3 linked regions of the Homo sapiens genome follow. The protein of the gene in region 1 purifies or fractionates together with the protein of each later gene. This does not show direct contact. Each region holds a gene or a part of one and is shown on either strand. Other genes may lie near its edges.

Region 1 (3,734 bases):
GCTCCTTTGGTAAAACTCTAATCTAGGATGAATTAGGTAGATAAAGGAAGCTTTTGTCTTGCTCTTTAATAAGTTGCAGCTTGCTTTTATATGTATTCGACGAACCAGATGAAATGACCCTTTCCCTTCTGTAGCTCAAAAATGGTTGAGTATTGGCAATTTCATGTGTTTCCACCTAATAATTGTTGGCAGGTCCTCACCGCAATGTATTCAGAGTTGTGTTTTGTTACTGTTCGCAAATGTTGGGGGATCTTTCGAGATGGACTGTGTGAAAGAGGAAAGGGAAAGCATGTCAGCACATGGACTTCCCTGATCAAGGACATGCTTCTCTCTGGGGCAGAGCACTTCAGTACACGGCAAAACACTGAGGAAATTCCTCTCCTTTCAGTGTTTGGCTGATCATGTGGAATTGATGATAATCCTTTTTGATAGCTTATTCTTTTTAACCTGCATTAAAAGCGCCATTTAAAACACTGTAATTGAACAGCCCTAAAACACTGTTAGGAGTAAAAGAACAGTATTCCTGCAAGGCCTTTAGCAGCTCAAAAATACATTTTTTTAAATATCAGGGATAGTAAGAATTCCTAGTATTTTTTCCTTTCAATGTTAACCTGAAAAATGGTTGTCTTCCACAGCTTTCTTACGTAAGAAGATGTGGTAAGATGAGGAAAAAAAATATGAGAACCAGTTAACAGTTCATTATTCATCATTAAACCAATATGTAATATGTTCTTAAATTAACCACCTTTTTTTTTTTTTTTTTTTTTTTTGAGACAGAGTCTTACTCTGTCACCCAGGTTGGAGTGCAGTGGCACAATCTCGGCTCACTGCAACCTCTGCCTCCCGGATTCCAGTGATTCTCCTGCCTCAGCCTCCAGAGTAGCTGGGATTACACATGCCTGCTACCATGCCCGGCTAATTTTTGTATTTTTCATAGAGACAGGGTTTCAGCATGTTGCCCAGGCTGGTCTCGAACTCCTGACCTCAGGTGATCCACCCATCTTGGCCTTCCGAAGTGCTGGGATTACAGGCGTGAGCCACTACGCCCAGCCTAACCACTTCTATTATAATACAATCTTGTGTTTCTAATATTTTCAATGTCTAATTAATACTGTTATTTACTAGGAATGTATGGTTTCAACTTGCCCCATTTTCCCTAGGTTTGGGCATTCCATCTTCTTCTTTTTTTTTTTTTTTTTTTTGGCTTCTAAGCTTTCAAGTTATTATTTTTTCCTGATCTAGGGGTCACCAAATTATGGGCTACAGGTCAAATTTAGCCAGCTGCCTATTGTAAATAAAATTGTAAGGAGACGCAGCTACCCCAGTTATTTAAGTATTGTCTGCTCTTGTGCTACGTGGCAGAGCTGAGTTATCCCACCCAACAAGACTGTGTGGCCTGCAAAGCCTCAAATTTTACTCTCTGGCCCTTTCCAGAAAAAGTTCACCGGCCCTGTTTACCCAACGACATGCATTTCTGTTTTTTGTAGCCTTTGCCACTTTGCGTAAAGCACACTCCAGGTCTCTGCTGTTGGGAAGAGGTCTTCACCTAACTTCCGGCAGCCAGGTTTCTTGCTTCTCTTCCCTAAATTCCACACTCGCACTCTCTCTCAGTTCATTTACCCCCTGACTCAGACAGAGGGGATTGAGGTATTTCAGAAGAGGCTTTGTATTTGACAGCTCTTTCTCCCTCTCTCCTTTTTATTTTTATAGCTCCAAATGAGAAGATGAAGCAAGTGTTAAAGAAGACTATAGAAGAAGCCAAAGCAATAATATCTAAGGTTGGCTTTTTTAAATGATGCACTAAAACTTGTTGGGTTTTTTTTTTTTTTTTTGGAGATGGAATTTTGCTTTTGTTGCCCAGGCTGGAGTGCAATGGTGCGATCTCGGCTCACCACAACCTCCACCTCCTGGGTTCAAGCAATTCTCCTGCCTCAGCCTCCCGAGTAGCTGGGATTACAGGCATGCACCACCATGCCGAGCTAATTTTGTATTTTTAGTAGAGACGGGGTTTCTCCATGTTGGTCAGGCTGGTCTCGAACTCCTGACCTCAGGTGATCCGCCTGTCTTGGCCTCCCAAAGTGCTGGGATTACAGGCATGAGCCACCGCGCCCGGCCTAAAACTTGTCTTTTGAGATAAAACTCCAACTCTGGCTTCCAGAGTTGCCTCTCAGCCAGCCTTCTCTTTCAGCCTTCCGGAGGCAAAGGAAACAAGCGTATTTGGGGTAGGCTGTAGCTTTTCCTTTCATAATCCTGACGGTTGCCCAGAGGCCTCTCCGTTCCTCCAGGCAGACACAAATTTTTGTTGGCTTATGTAAATATAGGTTCACGTATAATACAAATATGTATAATACAAATGTTGATTTCATTTCTTTTACCTTTTTGAAGAACTTAACAAAGTTAAGTAGGGGAGATTTGAATATTGTGGCCATCGAGTAGCTCTCCAGACACTTGATTGACTTAATATGTATTTGATATAAATGGTTTTTTGTAATTGTCTTCAGCATTTTATACAAAGGCTAGTTTATAGAGGGAGGAGCGTAAATTTATACCATTGATATACAGATAATGTGTATCTGGAGGAAGAGAATTTAAGGCTATTGAAAGAAGTGGTATCTGTATCTGTTGCTTGTATTTGTGTGTTGGTGATATTAGTTGCTACCGCTCTCAACTGCAAGTCTCTTGACTGATCACCACTTTTTCTTCTGCTTCTCCTGGTTTGCTCAGCAGAACTGTTATTTTTAAACCAATATTTCTCAAACTTACCAAGCTTTTGACTAATCTTTGAAGAGCCTCAGCAAAGGCTGCCCTGAAGCTCTGTGCCTGTTAATATAGGAAAGGCTTTATGAAGCTCTACAGGAGAGGCCCTGGTTGAGCCCGTCGTTTGCGTGGTGATGGCATCTAGGCATGTGAGCACGTCTCAGGCCATGGCAAGAAAACAGTGGTCTGGCTGTTGTTCTGCACCCTTCTCCCCACACTTTGCTGTGGAACTCCTCTCTCGGTCGCCTCACTTCTCCCCTTTGCCTGTGTACTTCTGAAAGTACTTTTTATCCTTGGTCTTCTTCCTCTCTCAGTATCTTATCTACTCTGCCAAATGCAAATTCCACCCTCTGCAGATAACTCTGAAGCTTCCATCCTTTCCCCCTGACATCTTGCTTCACTTCCAACCTGAATTTCCAGCTGGTTGTGAGATGGTTCTATCTGAACACCCAGTCAGCACTTTGAAGTCCAGTTTTCTAGAAATGAGCTCTTTGCTTCCTCACTCCTCTCCCTCTCTGTTCTGTCCCTGAGAATCAGCACCTCCTATGAGCTTCTCTGTTTCCAGTAACAGAACCACAGTGTCTTGGTTTTATAGGGCAAATCCTCAGTGTCATCTTCAACACTTCTCCCTTCTGTCACCTCTAGGTTTGAAGTGGGGTTCTGTACCGTCTGCTCCCATGATGCCTCTTAAGTCCACCTCTTCCTTTCACTTCCACAGCTGTGGCTTTCTTTAAGGCTCTCCTGTAGCCTTTTGCATTCTGATGCCCACTGGGGGTCCTGCCAGTCAATTCAATTCCGTTCTGACACTAACTACTCAGAGACAGCACAGACCCCACAGGTCAAGGGCAGATCCTTCAATTCTGACACTAACTGCCTGGAGTTAGCATCAGACCTAAAAGTTAAAGGGTGAGATCACCAACAAGACTCCTCTTATTTCAGACACCAGCTGCACGTGAGGTCCCCAGGCCACCCATACT
Region 2 (3,576 bases), on another chromosome or scaffold:
TGGAGGCAGAATTTTTACAAGCTTACCAGCATTGTAACGTTGGGAAGACTGCTAACCTGGTGGTGTCCTTTTGCATAAAATGACACTAATAAAACCCACCTAATAGAGTATCAAAATAATATATTTTGATGCTTGGAATACTGCAGAGCGAGTACTAACTATAAACAAACTGCTTCTTAAACCAATTTCATTTTTTTAAATGACCACACTCATTTGTCATTGTTTCTGTCAATCTTCTCGGGCTTACTCCTTCACTCCCTTCTCTGTATGATCATAGTACTCAATATATTATTTAGCTCAATTACAGAAGTTATCACACAGGGTTTCACAACTGATTTTGAATGTCTCCCCCAGTGTTCTAGGCTCATCCAGGATAATTCTTCCTTTCTCATCTCTTGTATCTGCACTACTCTTAATTTAGGTCTAGTATATTTTTTACAAAACGTTTTTGAATAAATGAGTAAGTCAGATCCTCAGACTATCTAGACCAGATCTAGCAGTACATGATATATTTTGGAAAGGCACTATTATATTCCCTAAGAACCTCTCTTTCACTTCCCTCTGATTTGAATAACTTTCAACTGCCAAGCTTTGAGAAAAGAATATAAAAGGGAGTGAAAATCTCCATTCCAAACTTGATAGGCGGTCTAAATTTTAAATGCATTATTTCTTCATTTTTTCTTGGATTTTGCAAGCTTTTGGGAAATTTGTTTCAATTTTAATTTTGCTTTAAATAAACCTAAAAAACTTTAGCTTGAAGATTAACAACTCTGCAATTTGAAGAATTTAGTTTGATGGCTACTCAGAAGATTCAGTAAGTAATTTCACAGTTCTTGATTATGAAACCTAAATATATGTTATGTTTTCTGTAGGCAAAATCCCAAACTTGTTACCTGAAGGTTCTGTAGATGGGGATACCAGGATGGTCCTGGTGAATGCTGTCTACTTCAAAGGAAAGTGGAAAACTCCATTTGAGAAGAAACTAAATGGGCTTTATCCTTTCCGTGTAAACTCGGTATGAGACAACAAAATACATCTTCCTAGCATATATTTTAGGGCTTTTGACAAGATATAGACAGAAAAATTAGAGACCGCTCATTATAGACTTGCTAGTTAGAAGTTATGCATGTTGGACAGTTGATTGACTCTTTAGAAACAGTATAGGTAAAGGGGAAGACTGTGGCTTTTTAATTATACATGCCCAGACTCCAACGTTGGCTCTACCACTTATTTCAAAGGGCTGTAAATATTGAGACATGGCACGGTTCCTGGCCCATAGTAAGAACTAAACAAGTGTTTTAGAATTATGGTTGTCATTACCATTGTTGTCCATCTTACTAAATAATGGGTATAAAGTTGAACAAGCTAATAACATCAGAGTACCCACTGTAAGGATGTACAAATAATTTATTTTGTTGATTTAAAAAAATCACATTTATCCTACACTAAAGTAGAACCAATCCTCCTTTATGTCTAATTGTAAATCTCTTGATATCTTATAATCGACTTCCATATTTTACCTTTTAATAATATTAGGCTCAGCGCACACCTGTACAGATGATGTACTTGCGTGAAAAGCTAAACATTGGATACATAGAAGACCTAAAGGCTCAGATTCTAGAACTCCCATATGCTGGAGATGTTAGCATGTTCTTGTTGCTTCCAGATGAAATTGCCGATGTGTCCACTGGCTTGGAGCTGGTAAGACATTCAGATATTTAAGTTTCTGGGGCTATACCTACCTTTCGTGAGATGAGATGAATATATACTCCTTACAAATGGTGTGGTAATTTCTCATGGAAATATATGAAACAGTTGATAGTAAATATGGCATGCCTCTACATTTCATTCAAAGCCTTAACTATGTCATACGTGTTACCTTCTTGTAAAAATCTGACCAATCTGTTAACTTTCTATATCACCCACAATATAGTAAAGTCACTGATTTTTAATATTAGACTTAAAGTTGTTTTCCTTCTTTCTAATACTTGCTGTATTTTCTTTTGTTTGTTTTGTTTTGTTTTGCTTTGCAGCTGGAAAGTGAAATAACCTATGACAAACTCAACAAGTGGACCAGCAAAGACAAAATGGCTGAAGATGAAGTTGAGGTATACATACCCCAGTTCAAATTAGAAGAGCATTATGAACTCAGATCCATTCTGAGAAGCATGGGCATGGAGGACGCCTTCAACAAGGGACGGGCCAATTTCTCAGGGATGTCGGAGAGGAATGACCTGTTTCTTTCTGAAGTGTTCCACCAAGCCATGGTGGATGTGAATGAGGAGGGCACTGAAGCAGCCGCTGGCACAGGAGGTGTTATGACAGGGAGAACTGGACATGGAGGCCCACAGTTTGTGGCAGATCATCCTTTTCTTTTTCTTATTATGCATAAGATAACCAACTGCATTTTATTTTTCGGCAGATTTTCCTCACCCTAAAACTAAGCGTGCTGCTTCTGCAAAAGATTTTTGTAGATGAGCTGTGTGCCTCAGAATTGCTATTTCAAATTGCCAAAAATTTAGAGATGTTTTCTACATATTTCTGCTCTTCTGAACAACTTCTGCTACCCACTAAATAAAAACACAGAAATAATTAGACAATTGTCTATTATAACATGACAACCCTATTAATCATTTGGTCTTCTAAAATGGGATCATGCCCATTTAGATTTTCCTTACTATCAGTTTATTTTTATAACATTAACTTTTACTTTGTTATTTATTATTTTATATAATGGTGAGTTTTTAAATTATTGCTCACTGCCTATTTAATGTAGCTAATAAAGTTATAGAAGCAGATGATCTGTTAATTTCCTATCTAATAAATGCCTTTAATTGTTCTCATAATGAAGAATAAGTAGGTATCCCTCCATGCCCTTCTGTAATAAATATCTGGAAAAAACATTAAACAATAGGCAAATATATGTTATGTGCATTTCTAGAAATACATAACACATATATATGTCTGTATCTTATATTCAATTGCAAGTATATAATAAATAAACCTGCTTCCAAACAACAATACATTTGTTGTCATTTCATTAGGTCTGCAGATCATAGACCTTGACTCCTAGGAGTTGAGCATTATGACTCACTTGTGAGAACTCAGAAAAAATAGACAGGATGAAGGAGCCAAGGACATAACAACCTTCATTCAAAAAGACCCAATGTTGAGGGTCAGTGGGATGGGGTTGTATGAAAAATGGGTTAGAGCTGCTTTCTCACAGCAGCAAAGACATAGCAATTCAGAATAGTCTAGGTTAGAGTCCTTTGGGGAAACCACTGTCTAAACATTAAGGACACCAGGATTAATGACCAAGTCCAGTGGTCCAGACACAGAAGAAGGCCTCAGTCATTGAGCTCAGAGTTGCAAGCAGTGAAGATGGGAGATGGGTTGGGTGCAAGAGCAGGAGGGGAAACATAAGATGGCTCTTTCTAAGTGTGTTTGTTTCTAATAGCAGTAATGCTTTTGAATGAGTCAGAGGCAGAGGAGAACATAATTGAAGACCTGAGAAATAAGGCAAATTGTAGGTTGGGGGCCTGAACAACAGAGTCTGGCTGCAGAAGTGCGGCTGGA
Region 3 (2,846 bases), on another chromosome or scaffold:
GGACCGACTTTGTTAAAGCACTGAACTAGCTTCCTTGGAGCCCCAAAGGGAGGGGCGGGACCTTCACTTCAGAAATAAGAAGACAGACTCAGAGAGGGTTTGTGGCTTTCCCAAAGATACCTCATTCCAGGATTTGAACCCCAGTCTCTCACTCGAGACCCCAGGTACTTGCTGTGGCCCATACCTTCCCCAAATTATCCACCAACAGCCAGTCAACCTGGGGCAGGGCTGTGGGGGAGAAACATTTGTTTACTAAATCACAGAGTCCCTCTGCCCGCTGGAGGGGAGAGGAGAATGCCACCAAGTGGGCGGGGGTGGGGCATTGCATCCCAGCATTTGAATGGGCAGGGAGGAAATGGGGCACAGGACTTCTAGAACTTGCAGTTTTGCTCATTCGGGCTGTCTAGGGAGGTGGTGACAGGGAGAGACTAAACTGAAATGTGCCTGTGACTTCCATCTCAGGAAGATGGAACATGTTCAACCCCAAGCCATGTTCGGGGTCTGTGGCAAGCAGGAATTCTCCTTTATTTTCCAATAGGGTTAACAATCTTTCCCAGGAAGAGCACGGAAGGTATTTTCTCGCTGTAAATCAGCAGCAGATAGGGTTTGTCTATCTTGACGACGAGTGGTGTCTCCATGGGCAGAGTCTGTGCTCCGGTGCCAGCGGCCCCTTCCGTACCCCTCTCATCCATCTTCAGCTCAGCCTTGTGCACAGCCTACGGAAGCCAAGGGCAAAGTCAAGGTCTGCCAAGCTCCTTGGCGACCACAGTGGGCCGGAGGCCCAGAGAGGATCAGAGAGGAAGACCACTTGGCCCAAGCCATCCAGCACAGCAGTAACTTGGTTTACTCCAGGGTTCCTGGCTCTTTCGCCATTAATGCTGGAGAATATTCGACAAGCAGATGCCGTGTGAAGGAAAAGATGGTGCAGGGGGAGCATCAGTTACGGGAGTCGGTGGGGGGAGAGATGGAGTGGGGTTTGCTTCTCTTTCTCATGGGTTACAGGGAAGCATCAACCATAGCCGTGGCAGAAAGGTCTACTGGGCTGTAGCTGGGTGAAAGTGAGGTGGTGGTACCCCCACCCTGAAGCCTCCAGCACCTCCTTTCATCCACCTGGTGGATGGTTAAGAGGGAGAAGGATTCTGGATTAGCTCTTTGAGATGACTTGCATCCCAAATCCACTCCAAAGGCATCAACGTCTGTAAACAGGTGATCAGTACTGGGAAACTAACGGGCATGTGTGAAATCCTGGCACATTTCTTGCTAGCCTACAAAATTCTCACAATTTTACTTGCAGAAAACAGGACAGTATCCTGTGTTACAATCACAGCTATCAGCAAACGTAACTACAGAAAGAAATGAGCCATTAAACTCAACAAGACCTTCAGAGCTGGTGTTAAATGTTTGTGGGAAGTCTGTGGCAGGAAAGCTCAAAAGTGAGAAAATTCTAGTAACTATGTTTCTTATGTCAACGTGAAAAATACAGTGGAATCTGTGCCATCTGATTCAGAGCAGCGGGCTCAGCTTGGCAAGCTGGATCCTTCCCAGACTGGCTTGAACCTCCCACTTTATCTCCACTAAGCACCCAATCCCCACCACCCACTACTCCATGATATCCAAAAACCCCCAGCCTTGGCCACACTGCTGCACCCATCCCCGCACCCATCTCTGCTTGTTGAAATCTTTCCCCTCCTTCAATGCCTTTTTAACCCCAAAGTAGGGTTGCCAGGTGAAATACAGGACATCCACTGAAATTTGAATTCAAGATAAACAATGAATATGTTTTAGTGTAAGTGTGTCCCGTGAAATATTCTGAACATACTGGCACTAAAAATATTATTCATCATTTATCTAAAATTCAAATTTAATTGGGTATCCTGTATGAAATCTGCTAAATCCGGTGACTCTACCTATATGGTGCTCTCTTCTTGCCCCAGACAGTCAGGTGCTCACCTTTGCCAGGGGCCACAGGCCCCTTTGCTTGGTCATCTCTTCCTATGCAGCATATGCTTATGCCAACTCATATGAAACATGTGGCCTTGGGCGCGGTGGCTCACGCCTGTAATCCCAGCACTTTGGGAGGCCAAGGTGGGTGGATGACCTGAGGTCAGGAGTTTGAGACCAGCCTGGCCAACATGGTGAAACCCTGTCTCTACTAAAAATACAAAAAAATTAGCCGGGCATGGTGGCGGGCGCCTGTAATCCCAGCTACTCGGGAGGCTGAGGCAGGAGAATTGCTTGAACCTGGGAGGTGGAGGTTGCAGTGAGCTGAGATCGCACCACTGTACTCCAGCCTGGGTGACAGTGCAAGACTCCTTCAAAAAACAAAATAAAAGAAAGAAAGGAAGGAAGGAAGGAAGAGAGAGAGAGAGAGAGAAAGAAAGAAAGAAAGAAAAAAAGAGAGAGAGAGACAGAGAAAGAAAAAGAAAGAAAGAGAGAAAGAGAGAGAGAAAGAGGAAAGAAAGAGAGAGAGAAAGAGAGAAAGAAAGAGAAAGAAAGAAAGAAAAGAAAGAAAGAAAGACGGATGTGGCCTTTGAGAGAGGGTCTGGGTTAGACCTAGACCAGTTCTAGGCCTGATAACTGTTCCAGGCCTTGATCAACGTTTGCTACATTGAATTGATTTCCAAAATAGCAGCAGTTTTAAAGACTGGAAGCATGAGGCTGGGGGAGGTTATGTGGTTTGCCCAGGATCACGGGGTTGGTAAGGGGCACAGCTGCATTCATGCCCGCCCCGACTGGTGGGTGGAGTCTCGGCTCTGACAGCCACTGTGACCCTGGCTCTGGCCCCGGCTGGGGGAAGGCCCCTGTGCTGCAGGGAGTGGAGTCCAGGCTAGGCAGGCTTACCTCGC

The links.
Region 2: the proteins of CFAP298 (region 1) and SERPINB2 purify together in Homo sapiens (affinity purification with mass spectrometry; 3 studies listed by BioGRID and IntAct, with this or other methods). This does not show direct contact.
Region 3: the proteins of CFAP298 (region 1) and SERPINA12 purify together in Homo sapiens (affinity purification with mass spectrometry; 3 studies listed by BioGRID and IntAct, with this or other methods). This does not show direct contact.

What each region holds. Positions count from the first base shown.
Region 1 is NC_000021.9:32,605,693-32,609,426, reverse strand, and holds part of CFAP298 (cilia- and flagella-associated protein 298), read left to right. Parts: intron 1-1,710; coding exon 1,711-1,778; intron 1,779-3,734. Other genes in the region: CFAP298-TCP10L (uncharacterized protein LOC110091775), read left to right, coding at 1,711-1,778. UniProt on the Homo sapiens protein: Plays a role in motile cilium function, possibly by acting on outer dynein arm assembly. Seems to be important for initiation rather than maintenance of cilium motility.
Region 2 is NC_000018.10:63,900,868-63,904,443, forward strand, and holds the end of SERPINB2 (plasminogen activator inhibitor 2), read left to right. Parts: intron 1-872; coding exon 873-1,015; intron 1,016-1,536; coding exon 1,537-1,701; intron 1,702-2,033; coding exon 2,034-2,438; 3' UTR 2,439-3,021; downstream 3,022-3,576. UniProt on the Homo sapiens protein: Inhibits urokinase-type plasminogen activator. The monocyte derived PAI-2 is distinct from the endothelial cell-derived PAI-1.
Region 3 is NC_000014.9:94,486,779-94,489,624, forward strand, and holds the end of SERPINA12 (serpin A12 precursor), read right to left. Parts: coding exon 2,842-2,846; intron 717-2,841; coding exon 525-716; 3' UTR 501-524; downstream 1-500. UniProt on the Homo sapiens protein: Adipokine that modulates insulin action by specifically inhibiting its target protease KLK7 in white adipose tissues.